Linked DNA regions of Homo sapiens: region 2 is linked to region 1. A link means that fine-mapping ties the variant in region 1 to the expression of a gene that starts in the linked region. Tissue or cell type: fibroblasts. Region 1 holds a variant in brackets; the other region holds the start of a gene. All regions are shown on one strand. Distances are between the middles of the regions. Region 1 has its middle 26 kb from the start of PUM3. Region 2 holds the start of PUM3 (pumilio RNA binding family member 3).

What was found. PIP is the estimated chance that this variant, and not a neighbour inherited with it, causes the effect.
Region 2: PUM3 starts here. The variant in region 1 is fine-mapped to the expression of PUM3 in fibroblasts (GTEx, PIP above 0.99).

Annotation. Positions count from the first base shown.
Region 1 is chr9:2,868,944-2,871,855 of GRCh38, reverse strand. No RefSeq gene overlaps it. Among named protein-coding and RNA genes, the nearest start is that of PUM3, 26 kb to the right of the region's middle. The variant A/G (reference allele first, on the strand shown) is at 1,407.
Region 2 is chr9:2,842,832-2,845,743 of GRCh38, reverse strand. It overlaps PUM3 (pumilio RNA binding family member 3), which reads left to right and starts at 1,649. Exons shown (of 18, transcript NM_014878.5): 1 at 1,649-1,699. RefSeq lists enhancers at 1,318-1,557, 1,381-1,675, 2,059-2,620.

The sequences.
Region 1 (2,912 bases):
TGGTAGAGCTTGGCTTGGACACCATGTCTCTCTGATATTGAGGTTTAGGGTAGTTAAATCAACGTGGTCTTTCCCCTTTTGCCAACTAGACGCCATGAGGCACAGAAAAAGCTCACAATAGCGTTCACCGGATTGAATTAATTTGTGATAATACCTACTTGGAAATTGGTAAAGTGGGTTCAAGAGCATATAGGTGAAACAGGTAAGATTGTCTCTAGACCCAAGCTTCTCCTCCACTGAAGTGACTGATTTCCTTATCTCAGCATTAGCTCCCATAAAGCAGCCCCCATCCCAGCTTGCTCCACCAGCCTCAGTCAGTTCTGACTAGAACGCTTATGTGACTCCTTCTACGGCCCAGTTTCCCTCCAGCCCTCATACCAAGCCCTCCATCCATCCAGGATTTCTATTGCCCTGACAGTTTGGTCAGTACTTTCAGCTCCCATTATTCTAGATTCCCTCAGAGGGCAACGGATTCCTGCTGGTTATATTTTGGATGTAATGGGCTTGGGCTCCCCACTAACAAGCTCTGTAACCTTGAGTAAGTTACCTACTTCCTTTGAGCCTTGAGTTTATTGTCTTTAAAATAATGGGCCAGGCCTGTAATCCCAGCACTTTGGGAGGCTGAGGTGGGAGGATCACTTGAGGCCAGGAGTTTAAGAGGCCAGCCTGAGCAACATAGTGAAACCCCATCTCTACAAAAAATTTTAAAACAAAAATATTAGCCAGGCATACTGTTGTGTGCCTTGTAGTCCCAGCTACTCAGGAGGCTGAGGTGAGAGGAAGTTACAGGAGATCAAAGCTGCAGTGAGCTATGATCATGCCATGGCACTTCAGCCTGGGTGACAGAGTGAGACGCTGTCTCTATTTAAAACATAAACAAAATAAAATAGTAATGAGAACTATTACTTGTTGGCATGCTGTGACTTTAACTGAAAATGTAAGTTAAATGTGTAGTAGAGTGCTTGCCCCACTGCCTATCTACTCTATGAGTCTGTAGATGGAAATTGAAAACTTTGTGATTGCTCTTTCAACTTGGAGAAGATGAATAATGAGAGGAAATAGAGACAGCAAAGAAAGAGAGAAGTTACAGGAGTAAGAAAGCAGATAAAATGCAGTATCGTGGAAGCCACAGAGAGAGTACGACCCTTAGTTCTTGTTTCCAATTGGATGGTCAAGAATTTCTGTCTTGCATTTGGCAAAGAGATAGAAGGGATTTTCAAGGCTTATTTCTATAGAGACATGGGGATAGAGACAGATGGCAGAGAAATAAAGACAGCAAGGTCTCAGGAAAGGAAGGCAGTTATTGATGACTATGGGTAAATTTTGGCAGGAAAAGAAAGTAGACGAGAGGGCAGCAATCCCAGAGCAATGGGTTTATGACAAGTAGATAATGGATAAATGCTCAC[A/G]GAGTCAATGGCTGAGGGAGTAACTGAGTGAGTGAGCAAAGATGCTTGGAGTTTCATGAAATGGTTTTGATAACATTGGTGATGTTGTTGGGTCTGTGGCATTTCTAAGCCTTTTTAGTATTAGTAGTGGGAGAAACATTGGAAGAACTATACAACATTCTTGGCTCACACAAAAGCACATCCAAGGGCCAAGAACATAAAGTAAAAATCCTTTCACCTGCTACCATCTGTTGCTCTCTAAACTGCCAAACTTTTCCTCAGTGCCCTCCAATAGTGGAGGCTATTTCCTCAGACCCCAAATAAGGTGTTAAAGATGACCCAAGAAACCTAGTTTTTGATTGGAAGCTGATCATCAAAGATTTGGAGATGTATGATGGACAAGTCTGAGTATATAAATCCATTCAGAAGCATCTCCTGAGATTCTTACACTCAGTTGAAGTTGACTAAAAGCTGGACAAAAACCCATTTGTCTATCTTTTTCCCTTAGCCCATTCCCTGGATCCAGACCTCCACTCCCTCAGTGCTGTAGGGTAGGCAGAAAGAGTATAAGTTCTCCAGAGATGGGATGGTGAGTATCAGGCTGGCCATTTAGTGTAGGTCAAGGCTTCTGGCATTTTAATATGCAGGCAAATCGTTAGGGGATCTTGGCCAAATGCAGTCTCTTGCTAACATAATGTGGGATGGGGCCTGCATTCTCTACTTTTAGCCATCCCCAGCTGATGCAGCTACTGTGGCTGCCAGGCATGAGTGTGATGGGCCATGCTTGAGTGGCAAGGCTATAGCATATCTAACTAACACTGATTTGCCCACACCTGCCCTTGTGACATTTGGTGGGTAACTGAGACACTTTTGTATCAGTTCAGCTTTAGGACTGATTTCCTCCCTCTCCCACTCACCCACCCCAACCATCAACCCTGCCCAGGAAAATGCAATGAAAAAAATAATAATAATAGTAGCATCTGATTGGAATCCTGAAGTCACAGCTAAAAGGTATTTTTTCCCCAGTTTTCTAGGGAACAACTAATGGTTGTTTTTCTTCTTTTTTGGATCCCAGAAGCCTTGTTTTTCTGGCCTTCATGGCTTGGCATGGATCCACTTTTGTTGATTTGGTGTTTCTTCTGTGGATAAACTTTCTGGCTTTGAAAAAGCCTCCTTCTTTTATGAGGCACTTTTAACCTGCAGGATCTCCATTTAGCTTAATTGGCATATTTATGTATTGAGATGGGTGCCTAGAGGGCTTGGGCCACAGCATCTTTTGTATAAATTGAAAAAAATGAAATGAGCTGTTCTCACAGTTGTGTGCCCTTCAGTCATGGAGTGCGCTAAAAGGCTCATCATTTACAGGCTGCGAAAGCTCAGGAAGATCAATAGGCATAATGCAACCCAGAGCTGTTCGGCAAAGCAAAACTCAGGGTTTTCAAAGCCCAGTGACTTCGGGAGCTTGGCCATTACTAATTCCCTTTTCAATCTTTCCTGGACCCTTCATTTCTTGTCCATGTTAAGGAA
Region 2 (2,912 bases), 26 kb after region 1:
TTGTGTGATAGGGTGTATTTTGCGATTTTTCTTTCTTTTTGGCCAGCATTTACTTGTCAGGTGTTTCAAGGTGTCTAATATCCCCACTACTATGCTATTTGCCCAAAAGGCACAGCTGATGGGCCTCCTGCAATTCCTGTTCCATATTCTCTTCTCTTAGCATTTACTGAATTATTGAAAGCAGTACGGAGGCAGCCACGTTGAGTTTAGAGTCAGGCTCACTGGACCAAAGCTACTATGTTTTGCCTTTCTCTGTAAAATGAGAAAAGACCTATTTAAAACGTTCTTATGAGATTTAAATGAGCTGAAATGTAAACTAGTAACAGTTAAGGTAGACGACAAGAACTTATCAAGTATCTATGTGCTGCATAGTGAGATAAGTGCCTGGAAAGTAATGATGGCCCCTGTCATCAAGAAGCATACAGTCTACTAAATTACCAGTTTCAACTCTAACTCCTTAGTGGCCAGAAAACGGAGTAAGTTGGAAGACAGTAAAATCTGAAGTCTGGCACCAGGGATCAAGTGCCAGTTCCTCAACTTTACAGATGCAGTGGGTTGAATAGTCTCCAAAAGATATGTCTATGTCCTAACTCCCAGGACATGTGAAAGTGACCTTATTTGGGAAAAGGGCCTTTGCAGATGTGATTAAGGACCTCCAGATGAGATGATCTTGGATTATCCCCGTGGACTCTAAATTCAATGTTCAGTGTCCTAAAAACACACAGAGAAGTGGCACAGGCACAGGAGAAGGCCATTAGAAGACAGGCCGAGATTGGAGTCATGCAACAAGAGGCCACGGACCGCCTGGAACCGTTAGAAGCTGAAGAAGCAAAGCATTCTCCCCTAGAGCCTTCAAAAGGTGCAGGGCTCTGCCAACAGCTTGATTTTGGAATTCTTGCCTCTAGAACAGTTAAAGAATAAAATTCTGTTGCTTGACACGAGCAAGTTTGTGGTGTCAGTTTCTTCATCTGGAAAATGGGGCATATATCCTAACCACAATCTTATTTCCTGAAGTATAAAATGGAATAACAGCAGTTTCCAGGCACGAGCAGACACTAAAAATGGCAAACATTTATTGAGAGCGTTCCATGCTAAGCGCTTTGCACGTATCACTTAATTATTTCTATTTTATTGATCAGGAAGCCAAAGCTCATAAAAACTGTAATTTTCCCAGAGCCACACAGCTAGCAAGTGAAAAAAACGGGATTACAATTCAAATCGACTCACAAGATACCCCTTTTATCCTCCACGCTGGACTGCTGAGGAAGTATGCAAATTAACACACTTTAGAAACTTTAGCTACTTCAATATTTGTTCAGGCTACGGGATGCAGGCCTCTTATTAACCGCGCCAGCCAGGTCTGTCCTTCAGCAGCCTGTTCTGCCTCGCAAGAGCTCTCCCTCTCTTTCCAGCACGGAAGCCACAGGGTTAATGACGTCATTTCCCGTGGCCGTTGTCGCGTCCTCCGCCCGACGGATTCTTGCAAGGGCCAAAATCCTCGCGCCTCAAGAGGAGGCATAACAGCAGCGGACCAATAGAAATTCCGAATTTTTGTATTCTCTGGGAAGCTCCACCTCTTAGTCCCTGATCCGCCGCGGAAGATGAAAAAAAGCGGCCCGGGGGCGGAGCAAGGCAAGGAAGCGGAAGCGGAGAGGCGGTCGGGATCCGCTGCGCGAGCTGTCTCGGTCCCACGTGTGCGGTGAGTGTGGCAGGCTCAGCGGTCGCTCTTGGGAGGGGTTCGCACCCTGCCGGGCGCTGGAAGTCGGGAAGGTCTCTCGGGGCTGTTGTCCACTGGGCAGTCTCCTCTGGCCTCTTTCTGGGCTAGGAGTTTGGGACTGACTGGAGCCTGGCAAGAAGGGCGGGACTGGCCGGGCGCGGTGGCTCACGCCTGTAATCCCAGCACTTTGGGAGGCCGAGGCGGGCGGATCACAAGGTCAGGAGATCGAGACCATCCTGGCTAACACGGTGAAACCCCGTCTCTACTAAAACTACAAAAAATTAGCCGGGCATGGTGGCGGGCGCCTGTGGTCCCAGCTACTTGGGAGGCTGAGGCAGGAGAATGGCGTGAACCCGGGAGGCGGAGCTTGCAGTGAGCCAAGATCGTGCCACTACACTCCAGCCTGGGAGACAGAGCAAGACTCCGTCTCAAAAAAAAAAAAAAAAAAAAAAAGAAGGGCGGGACTCCGACCTCTCTCCCACCACGTTGCCCTGCGTGCCGGGTTAGAGTGGACTAGCTTCACTCCGGAATCCCAGCCCGTGCTCGGCCTGATCAGCCTGTCTGTGCTACTTCACAAACCCCAACTCCAGTGCTAGGCGGTTTGCCTGAATGTACGCAGATTCTAAGTGCTGGGAGGAAACGAACTGGATGCTGAGTTGGCAGATAGTGGAGTCTGAAGAAGTGATCTTTAAACGGAGATTTGGAAGCTCAGGGAGTACTTCAAGCAGAGGCGATAATGGGCTAAGTTCCTGAGATGGGAGCTAGGAAGGAGTATAGTTAGAGTACAAGATAAAGTTAGCCGGATAGAGTGGAACTAGGTTCTGTAGGGCCTTGAAGGTCATGATGGGGAATTTTTTTTTCTGTACAATAGGAAAACATTTCCGTTCCTATTACCATGTGTAGAAAACATTGAAGACTTGTAAGCAAGTGAGAATCATGAATAGGCCCTGGTTCTCTTTAGAAAATGTATTACATTTGGAAGCTCAAGAGATTGTATTGGTAATAGTTTGCATTAGGGTGGTGACGTAAGGGACATTTAAGAGAACTAACTTATGGTTCAGCGTGGCAGAGTAGAGAGGAAAATGTCAAGGGTAACTCAGATTTCTTACTTGAGCAGTAAAGTAGATGATGTGCCATTGGCTGAGATGGAGGACGATAGGGCAGGGAAAAATAGTATATTGTTGTTTGTGGGGCA